Linked DNA regions of Homo sapiens: region 2 is linked to region 1. The links come from fine-mapping of genetic effects on plasma protein levels. A gene starts in region 1. The other region holds a variant in brackets. All regions are shown on one strand. Distances are between the middles of the regions.

The links. PIP is the posterior inclusion probability: the model's chance that the variant is causal. Protein levels are from antibody-based Olink assays in UK Biobank. Linkage for the fine-mapping came from a reference panel and not from the study's own genotypes, which makes the PIPs less certain.
Region 2: its variant is fine-mapped to the plasma level of the CD27 protein (UK Biobank, PIP 0.95).

The regions. Positions count from the first base shown.
Region 1 is chr12:6,441,507-6,446,878 of GRCh38, forward strand. It overlaps CD27 (CD27 molecule), which reads left to right and starts at 3,449. Exons shown (of 6, transcript NM_001242.5): 1 at 3,449-3,725; 2 at 3,918-4,049. The coding sequence starts at 3,590. CD27-AS1 (CD27 antisense RNA 1) reads right to left here. Exons shown (of 6, transcript NR_015382.2): 5 at 2,040-2,211. RefSeq lists silencers at 1,231-1,370, 1,471-1,550 and enhancers at 2,541-2,610, 2,631-2,680, 3,585-4,086, 3,631-3,690, 3,721-3,900 and 1 more.
Region 2 is chr12:6,426,451-6,431,822 of GRCh38, forward strand. No RefSeq gene overlaps it. Among named protein-coding and RNA genes, the nearest start is that of CD27, 16 kb to the right of the region's middle. RefSeq lists enhancers at 378-487, 528-767. The variant G/A (reference allele first, on the strand shown) is at 2,681.

The DNA.
Region 1 (5,372 bases):
GTCCTGACCAGGTGGCCTCTCAAAGCCTTGCTGGGAAGGAGGCTTTAAGGTGGTGGGGGCAGCAGTGCTGGTGGTGGTCATCGAAGAAAGTGGGAGTCGGGGAGGAAGCAATGGGGAGCAGGGGACAAAGAGGGCCAGACAAACTCAGAGCTTCAGGTGATGAGACTCAGGAAGCCTAAGTCAGGAACAGTGATTGCGGACATCTTTGTCCCATAACAGAACTTCCTCCTAAGGAAAGGTCTTGCAGAGACTGGTCCTGCTGAGCGCTTTAACAGGTTATTGATTCATAAAAATTGGAGAAAAAAGACAAAGTCTGCCACACCTAACAGCCTTCTGTTTAGAGCTGGTTTAGAGGAAACTTTAAGCAAGTCTTGTGTCCAACAATTTGGGCCTGAGGCAGGGTACAGGTAAGGGAACAGACAGGAGACACGGAGGCAAGAACAAGACTTTAGCTGAAAGAGAAATCAGAGCCAGAGGCAGCCACAAGAACACCCAACCTACTGGAACTCATGCAGGTGGACAGCCTGCCCAGGACTTGCCCTGAGTGGGAAGCAAAGAGCATCTTATCTAGATTTTAAGGAGCAGGGTGCCCCTGGCTGACATCTAGGCTACAGTCACTGGGCCAGGTGGAGGGTTGGTCAGGCCCTCTCAAAAGTCATGAGAGGCCAGGCACAGTGGCTCACGCTTGTAATCCCAACACTTTGGGAGGCCGAGGAGGGCAGATCACTTGAGGCCAGGAGTTTGAGACCAGCCTGGCCAACATAGTGAAACCCCGTCTCTACTAAAAATACAAAAAATTAGCCGGGTATGGTGGCCGGTGCCTATAATCCCAGCTACTTGGGAGGCTGATGTATAAGAATCGCTTGAACCTGGGAGGCAAAGGTTGCAGTGAGCTGAGATCATGCCACTGCACTCCAGCCTGGGCAACAGTGAGAGACCCTTTCTCAAAAAAAAAAAAAAAAAAAAGAACCAAAAAAAGTCATGAGAGTCCTCAGAGTTCTCAAGAAGGGCTGCTGTGGGCCTGTTTCTGGAAAGGAAAGAAAAGCAGGGAGCTGTTGAGAAAATACCATATGTTTTTATGCCCCAGCCAGGCATGGGGGAGAGGCTGACCCCAAAAGAGAAAGTGGTTGTGTGAGATTTCAAGGAAGATGTCAGCGGGCTGCATCCCAGGGCCTCTAGACAAAAGGAAGGGCCCAGCCAGGCATGGTGGCTCGTGCCTGTAATCCCAGCACTTTGGGAGGCCGAGGCAGGCAGATCACCTGAGGCTAGGTGTTCTGGTCCAGCCTGGCCAACATGACAAAACCCCATCTCTACTAAAAATACAAAAAATAAGCTGGGCGCGGTGGCTCTCCCCTGTAATCCCAGCCAAGGTGGGCGGATCAACTTGAGGCCAGCCTGACCAACGTGGCAAAACTCCATCTCTACTAAAAATACAAAAATTAGCTGAGCGTGGTGGCACGCACCTGTCATCCCAGTTACTCAGGAGGCTGAGGCGTGAGAATGGCTTGAGCCTGGGAGACAGAGGTTGCAGTGAGCTGAGATTGCATCATTGCACTCTAGCCTGGGTGACAGAGTGAAATGGAGGGAGGAAAAAAAAAAAAAAGGAAGGTCCCGTCCAGGGAGCCAGCCTAGGATGGGGAAGGCTCACCAGAAGTGGATGCAAAGAGTGCTGGAGATGAGCTCATTCTATTTGCCTAGGAAAGAAAAACGTCCAGAAACCTGGCCTTCCTCCTCTTGGCCGAGGCCCTCCAGGAAAGCCAGGCAGACCCTGCTCCTGCTCTGACCCCCTGGAGAAGTGATATGTAGAAAAGAGGAGATGGGCTTTGGCCCAGAGGACAGCAGCGTTAGGCTAGTGAGCAGTTCCCAGTCGGTTCAAGGTTGCTAGGCTCAGCGAACTGCAAGTCCCTGTTCGACAAGTTTCTTCCTAAAGGTCCCCAGTTCCTCATGATTCTTCTGAGGGTCTCATCCACCCTCCCAGGGCCTGCAGTCAGCTAGCCACCCCACTGCCCCATGCCTGCAGTGAACACATTTACCACAACCTGGAAATGGCTGGTGACAGAAAAGTCCTCACGGCCACAACACTCTCTGCGGTGGGAATTCAGGTGCCTTGCCTGATGGTGACAAAGCTGGTTTTGCATAAACAGCTCTCTGAATCACACCCAAATGTGGCTTCTGACTTGAGTGGACCCCCATGAAGAGCTGCAGAGGGGGCTGGGAAAAGACAAGAGAATGGAGAAAATGAGGAGAAAGGAAACTACAGAGTGAGATAGAGAACAGATCTGACAGGTGTGACCACAGCAGTGTGACATTTATGAACAGTGTGGAAACAACGGCAAAGCCCCTAAATTAAAAACTTCCTGGGGAAATAAGCCACTCCACATATCGGTTGCTGAGGAAAGAGTGGAGGAGGCTGTTGACCCGTGTGTGTCCCCATGACTCAAAGAGGGAAAAGTCTAGCTGTTTCCAATATCCCGAAATCAGTCTTGCTGGGAGAACTGGGAAAATAAAAAAGAGATGACCCCCGTAGGAAGCTACCTTTAATCCCAAGTGCCCAAGGCTAGGAGAGAAGATGCTCCAGGCGATCCAGGACACCAGTGACTGACACAGCCAGAGGTGGGAAAGGGGAGGATAAAGATGGCACAAAAGTGAGGAGTGAGCAAGGGTCTGAGAGGGAAGGCCATGTGGGCAGTAGGTGGCACCCACATCAGAGACTGACATGAGGATTAAAGGAGAGCATAGGTGATCGGTCAGAGTGTGACAGAAGAGAGGCAGCTCTACACCCCTTGCTTGCAATTCTGAGCATTCTGTAGCAAACTCGTTTGGCCATCAAACCAGACCTCAATTGAGACAAGGCTATTTAAGCTTCCTCCCAGTTGGTGTAAATATTCAATAGTTTTGCTGCAGAAATGTTGCGTTTGATTATGAGACTACCCCAACTCCCCAAGGGTGTTTTGTGGTGCTGGTTTCTGTATAAACCTGAAAAATTCTGAATTCCAAAACTTATCTGACCCCCAAAGTTTCAGATAAGAGCTTGTGGACCTGTGCTCAATTCTGGTTCTCCTTCCTTCTTTCAACTGTTGTCTGTGAAAGGAGGGATGCAGGTATGGGAGACAGGAGTCCTGCGAATTCGTCTGTAAACTGTGGACGGGGGGGTGGGTGGGGGGGGGTAACGTGGGCACCTTTGTGCACAAGTGCATGAATAGGAGGGGTGAGCAACTGTGTGTCCATCACCTTTTTGTCAAAGAAGCAGGAGTCAGTGGGCTACGTGCTTCATGAGCAGGAGAGGCGGAAACTAAGGAAGGCTCATGTGTTGGAGGAAGCATGTTTGAAGAGCAGCAGGTCTCACAGAGTTTGCTCTTTAATACTCTCCCCAGCACACGGAAGGGGAAGGGGGTGGAGGTTGCTGCTATGAGAGAGAAAAAAAAAACAGCCACAATAGAGATTCTGCCTTCAAAGGTTGGCTTGCCACCTGAAGCAGCCACTGCCCAGGGGGTGCAAAGAAGAGACAGCAGCGCCCAGCTTGGAGGTGCTAACTCCAGAGGCCAGCATCAGCAACTGGGCACAGAAAGGAGCCGCCTGGGCAGGGACCATGGCACGGCCACATCCCTGGTGGCTGTGCGTTCTGGGGACCCTGGTGGGGCTCTCAGCTACTCCAGCCCCCAAGAGCTGCCCAGAGAGGCACTACTGGGCTCAGGGAAAGCTGTGCTGCCAGATGTGTGAGCCAGGTAAGAGGGGGCCTTGGTAAGGGCCAGGTGAGTGGCGAAAGAGAGAGGACTGGGGTTAATACAGTAAATAGGCGCAGGGTGAGACTGAGCTCAAGCAAGGAGGGAAATCCTGCAGCTGTGGGGAGGCACCACCTTGAAGAGGGCAGAGAACCAGCCCTTCTCAGGCCTTGATCCCTTACCCTCTCCTCCCAGGAACATTCCTCGTGAAGGACTGTGACCAGCATAGAAAGGCTGCTCAGTGTGATCCTTGCATACCGGGGGTCTCCTTCTCTCCTGACCACCACACCCGGCCCCACTGTGAGAGCTGTCGGCACTGTAACTCTGGTGAGGTGGGCAAGGGTGTGTAGGTGGGGACGATGGACAAGCATCTGGGGGAGCAAGGCTGGTGACGGGTTTGGGGGTGCAAGGAGGATGACGGGGCCAAAGCTTTGGCCTTCTTCAAGGCTCACAGCAAGTGGAGCCAATGCTGGGAAATGCGGCACCCTAGGTGGGGCATGAATTAACGTGGGCAGACATCTAGTATTCCAGGAAAGGGATAAATAGAATTTGAGGGATTGGTGAGAACGGGTCTATGGATAGGATCAAGACAATAAAATGAGAGAAGTGGCTCTATGACCCCAGATTTCGGGCAAGCAACCCCCAACCAATAAACTGACTGTGTTCCCAGAGTGCACATGTGCAGGTTGGCCATTGGGAATTTGGAATACATCTTTCTAAGGAAATAACAAAGCAACCCAATAGGTAACAACCTTTTTTTGCACAAAAGCCAATTTGAGAAAATGAGTATGTATGTAGCCTGTGTTTTTATTTTATAGTTCCAAAAAAAAAGGTTTTTTTTAAACTAAGAAGTATAATATCTGCAGTTGTGCTTATGAATGCTGTTATTATTTCTCCATCTTCGCTACAATTTCAGAAACTACGGCCAGTATACACTAGAATAGCAGGCTTTAAAGTGGCCCCTTTGAACAAATGTTCTCTAGCAAGACACTTTTTAGAACCAGGTAACTGTAACTATTAAACTACCTACTTGCAAAACGTGTTTGGTGTCACTGGGTCTCTTGGTACTGGGTTTTGTTTTGTTTAGTTTAGAGACAAGGTCTAGCTCTGTCACCCAGGCTGGAGTGCAGTGGTGCAATCATAGCTCCCCACAGCCTTGAACTCCTGGGCTCAAGCAATCTTCTAGTCTCAGCCTCTGAAAGTGCCAGGATTACAGGTGTGAGCTGTAGTGCCTGGTCCCGTAAAAACAAAAACAAAAACCAACACCAGATGTGGTGGCTCATGCCTATAATCCCAGCACTTGGGAGGCCAAGGCAGAAGGGTATTTGCATATTTTGTAGAGACTTGAGCCCAGGAGCTTGAGACCAGCTGGGCAACATAGTGAGACCTTGTCTCTAAAAAAATTGGCTGGTCATGGTAGTGCACCTGCAGTCCCAGCTACTTGGGAGGCTGAGATGGGAAGATCACTTGAGCCCAAGAGGTCCCCAAGAGGTCCAGGCTGCTCACATCACTGCACTCCAGCCTGGGTAACAGAGCAAAACCCTTTTTCACACACACACACACACACACACAAAAAGCCAGAGCAGTGGCTCACACTTGTAATCCCAGCACTTTAGGAGGCCAAGGCAGGCGGATCCCTTGAGCCCAGGA
Region 2 (5,372 bases), 15 kb before region 1:
CATCAAAGTAGGGAGCATCAGGCCGGGTGCGGTGGCTCACACCTGTAATCCTAGCACAATGAAAGACCGAGGTGGGCAGATAACTTGAGACCAGGAGTTCAAGACCAGCCTGGCCAACACGGCGAAACCCCATCTCTACTAAAAATACAAAACAATTAAGCAGGGATGATGGTGTGTGCCTGGGGTCCCAGCTACTTGGGAGGCTGAGGCATGAGAATTGTTTGAACCCGAACCCAAGGCTGAGGCAGAAGTTGCAGTGAGCCAAGATCGCGCCACTGCACTCCAGCCTGGGTGAGAGAACTCCAGCCTGGGTGACAGAGGGAGGCTCCATCTCCCAAAAAACAAAACAAAACAAACAAACAAAAAAAACAAGTAGACAGCATCAATTCTGGCCAACTTATGGGTAAAAGAGAAGGCTGCCACAGCCCTTGCCCTTTGGGAGTGCCTGTCCCTTCAGTAGCTGCCCCAAAAATCCTGCAGAAGAGAAGGGTCAGAGGAAGCACCTGTAATAAAGGGTGAGGCCCCACCAACCCACTCTCTTCCTCTCCTCTCCTAGCCGAGGGAGCCATCAGAGGCAAAGGGAGTGTGGGAAAGATTAGTCAGACATGTTTCCCTTTGTGTCACAGAGTCAAACTCTCCATCCGTGACTTCAGAAAAGTCACAAGAGAGCCCCAGCAACGGCCCACAGGGTGTCATAGCAACACGCCTACACCTCAAGGTGCCACCTTCCAACTCTGGAGAAAACAACTGCCTTCTTCAAATGTCAACTGCTACATGGGCAAAGAGCAACTTGAAAATGAAATTCGGGGCTGGGCGCAGTGGCTCACACCTGTAATCATTTTGAGAGTCCAAGGCGGGTGGATCACTTGAGCCCAGGAGTTCCAGACCAGCCTGGGCAACATGGCAAAACCACATGTCTTCAAAAAAATACAAAAAGTAGACAGGCATGATGGCATGCACCTGTAGTCCCAGCTACTCGGGAGGCTGAAGTGGGAGGATCACTTGAACCCGGGAAGTGCAGGCTGCAGTGAGCCGAGGTTGCACCACTGCACTCCCCACTCAGTCTGGGTGACAGAGCGAGACACTGTCTAAAAAAAAAAAAAGAAGAAGAAAAAAAGAAAGAAAGAAAATGAAATTGAAATTAGGGGCCGGGCACAGTGGCTCATGCTTGTAATCCTAGCACTTTGGGAGGCCGAGGCAGGCGGGATCACCTGAGGTCAGGAGTTTGAGACCAGCCTAACCATGATGGTAAAACCCAGTCTCTACTAAAAACACAAAATTAGCTGGGCATGTGTGGCGCATGCCTGTAATCCCAGCTATTCAGGAGGCTGAGGCAGGAGAATCACTTGAACCCAGGAGGTGGAGATTGCAATGAGCCGAGACTGCGCCATTGCACTCCAGCCTGGGCAACAAGAGCGAAACTCCATCTCAAAAAAAAAAAAAAATGAAATTAGGAAAAACAACTCAATTTACAATAGCATCAAAAAGAATAAATACTTAGGCATACATTGGCCAGGTGCGGTGGCTCACATCTGTAATTCCCACATTTTGGGAGGCCAAGGCAGGCGGATCACCTGAGGTCAAGAGTTCGAGACCAGACTGGCCGACATGATAAAACCCTGTCTCTACTAAAAATACAAAAAATTAGCCAGGCGTGGTGGCAGGCACCTATAATCCCAGCTACTCGGGAGGCTGAGGCTGCAGAATCGCTTGAACCTGGGAAGCAGAGGCTGCAGTGAGCTGAGATTGGGCCGCTGCACTCCAGCCTGGACAACAGAGTGAGACTCTGTCTCGAGAAAAAAAAAAAAAAACTTGGTATACATTTAACAAAGAAAGTGCAAGACTCATACACTGAAAACTAGAAAACATTGTTGAAAGACATTAAAGAAATCCTAAATAAATGGAAAGACATCTGTGTTCATGGACTGAAGGTAACAATATTTCCCAATTTCATCTACAGACTCTATGCAATCCCCATCGAAATTCTAACTGCCTTCTTTTTTGCATAAATGGACAAGCTGATCTTAAAATTCACATGCAAATGCAAGGGACACAGAGTAGCCAAAATAATTTTGAAAAAGAAGAACGAAGTTGAAGTCCCAATTTCGAAACTTACTATAAAGCTACAGTAATCAAAACCATGGTATTGACCTAAAGACAGACATACAGATCAATGGAATACAATTTAGAGTCCAGAAATCAACCCATACATCTATTGTCAATTAATTTCAGCAAGGGTGCCAAGACCATTCTGTGTGAAAAGAATAGTCTTTTCAAGAAGCAGTGCTAGGACAACTGCATATCCACAAGTAAAAGAATGAAGTTGGACCCCTACCTAAAACCAGATAAAAAATTTAACTCAAAATAAATCAAAGAACTAAATTTAAGAGTTAAAACTATAAAACTCTTAGAGGGAAATATAAGTGAAAATCTGTATGAGTTTGGATTCGGCAACAGTTTCTCAAATATGATGCCAAAAGCACAGGCAACAAAAGAAACAGTAGATAAACTGGACTTCATCAAAATGTGAAACTTTTTTTTTTTTTTTTGAGACGGAGTCTCGCTCTGTCTCCCAGGCTGGAGTGCAGTGGCGTGATCTCTGCTCACTGCAAGCTCCGCCTCCTGGGTTCACGCCATTCTCCTGCCTCAGCCTCCCGAGTAGCTGGGACTACAGGCGCCC[G/A]CCACCACGCCCGGCTAATTTTTTGTATTTTTAAGAGACGGGGTTTCAGCATATTGGCCAGGCTGGTCTCCATCTCCTGACTTCGTGATCCGCCCGCCTTGGCCTCCCAAAGTGCTGGGATTACAGGCATGAGCCACCATGCCCGGCCCAAAATGTGAAATTTTTATGCATCAAAGGGCACTATTAAGAAGGTAAAAAGACAACCCACAGTATGGGATAAATTTTTTTTTTTTTTTTTCTGAGACGGAGTCTCGCTCTATCGCCCAGGCTGGAGTTCAGTTGTGCGATCTCGGCTCACTGCAAACTCTGCCTCCCGGGTTCCACACCATGCTCCTGCCTCAGCCTCCCGAGTAGCTGGGACTACAGGCGCCCGCCACAACGCCTGGCTAAATTTTTTTTTTTTTTTTTTTTAATTTTTAGTAGAGACGGGGTTTCACTGTGTTAGCCAGGATGGTCTCGATCTCCTGACCTCGTGATCTGCCCGCCTCGGCCTCCCAAAGTGCTGGAATTACAGGTGTGAGCCCCCGCCCCGGGCCAGAGAAAATATTTTCAAATCACTTATCTAGTAAGGTCTAGAATTCATAATATCAAAAAGAAAAAAAAAAAAACTCTTGCAACTCAGCAACAAAAGACACAAATAATTTAATTTAAACACGGGCAAAGGACTTGAACAGACATTTCTCCAAAGAAAATATACAAATGGCGATGAGCACATAAGAAGATTCTCAACATCATTAGTCTTAGTGAAATACAAATCAAAACCACAATAAGATACCACTTCACACCAACTAGGGTAGTTATAACTTTTTCAAAAATAGAAATGTATCTGTGATATTTGCACATCTTTGTGAATATAGTAAAAGCACTGAATTGCACATTTTTAAATGATGAAAATGATTCATTTTATCTCAGTAAAAGTCTAGCCACTGAATTGTACATTTTTAAATTATTAAAATGATTCATTTCATCTCAGTAAAAGTCAACAGGCACCAGGGATCCCTTCAGTTTGGGCTGGAGGTCAGTGCAGTTTGGGGGGTCATCAAATGCTGAAGCAGAAGGAGTTTAGGGGTCACGCAAGTCCCAGCTGCCGTGTGACAAGTGAGGTAAAGGACACACCCTCTGTGGAGGTCTGAAGTCCCCTGACATTAGTAAGGGAGGGACAGCAGAGATCTCCCCTGTCACCACGAGGCTTTTTTCAGCCCCCAGGGCAGATGGCAAGTGTATACCATGTTTGGCACCCCTGTGATTGGCAGAGGCAATGCAGGTTGGGTCTGGAGGACAAGATTGCTGTGGGGGAGAGCCAAGGGTGGACTTCAGAACACTGGTGGTGACATAAGGGTAAAAAGGCCTTGGTCACAAAAGAGGAAACACAAACAGCGCGATCATGGAAAGACGCTCAGCCTCCCCGGGAATGGGAAGAGTGCACACTGAAACAATGAGACAGCACTTTCCTCCAATGAGATGCTCAAAAACAGTTTGCTAATACGAAAGCCTGGCAGGACGTGAGGAAATATGTGCTATCATTCCACTGCTGGTGGGAGTGTGAATTGGTAGGGCCACTCTGGAGGGCAACTCGCCAGCATCTGTTAAAGTGAAAAATGTGCACACCCTGTGACTCAGCGATTCCGATGCCCCGCACTTATTCTAGAGAGACACTCCCACATGCACAGCGAAGTATGAGATGTTTATGCAACACCACTTACGATAGTGCATTGTTGGGAACAACCTAAGTATTCGGGAACCAGGAGAATGGCTAAAAAGCCTCTGCACATCCATTCTCTATTTAACGAAACGAGTAGTTCTAGAAGTATAAAATGAAATGATCTCCAAGACATATAACTGGATTAAAAGCACGAAAAGCAAATCGTAGGATACATACTGTATATCATTTATGGAAAGAACAAAACAAACACAAAAATACAACTGTGCTGGGGCCGATGGACAATTGTGCCTGGCAGGCTGAGTCATGAGGCCAGTTAACAAGCCTTTCTCTATCTGCAAAAAGAAGTACTTTAGAAAAGCAATATAAGAAGAACATGGACCAGGGGCAGTGGTTCATGCCTGTAATCTCAGCACTTTGAGAGGCTGGGGTGGAAGGATTTCTTGAGGCCAGGAATTTGAGACCAGCCTGAGAAACATAAAGAGACCCAGTCTCTACATAAAATTAAAAATCAGTCAGGCGTGGTAGTGTGCACCTCTGGTCCTAGATACTCTGGAGGCTGAGGTAGAAAGATCTCTTGAGCCCAGGAATTCGAGGCTACAGTGAGCCATGATTGTGCCACTGCACTCCAGCCTGGGTGAGTAAGCAAGGCTGTCTCTAAAACACAAAAAGAAGAAGAACATGGAACTGCCAGACTTGGGCTATTTCATTTCCCAGAGATAATTTTTTACCGAGTGGAGAGAAAATGGGTGGTTTGTTCCTTAGGCTCTATTTCTTGCTCTGTGCTAGAATTATCGCAGCTTTGTGTAAGATTTCCTTCAGCAAATATAGGTAGCCTGCGATGCCCCAAATAAGAAAGGAAAAGACAAAGTCAGATGTTACTGCTGTCGGTCATCTCAGGTATGAAAAAGAGAGGCAGGCCCCTTGCCAGGGAGAAGGAACAACCAGATGCTGTCCATGAGGCACTCTCCTACCTCTCCTAAGACAGGGGTCGCCCTTGCTCTGAAAAATTCAAGCAGAGAATCCTCAGGA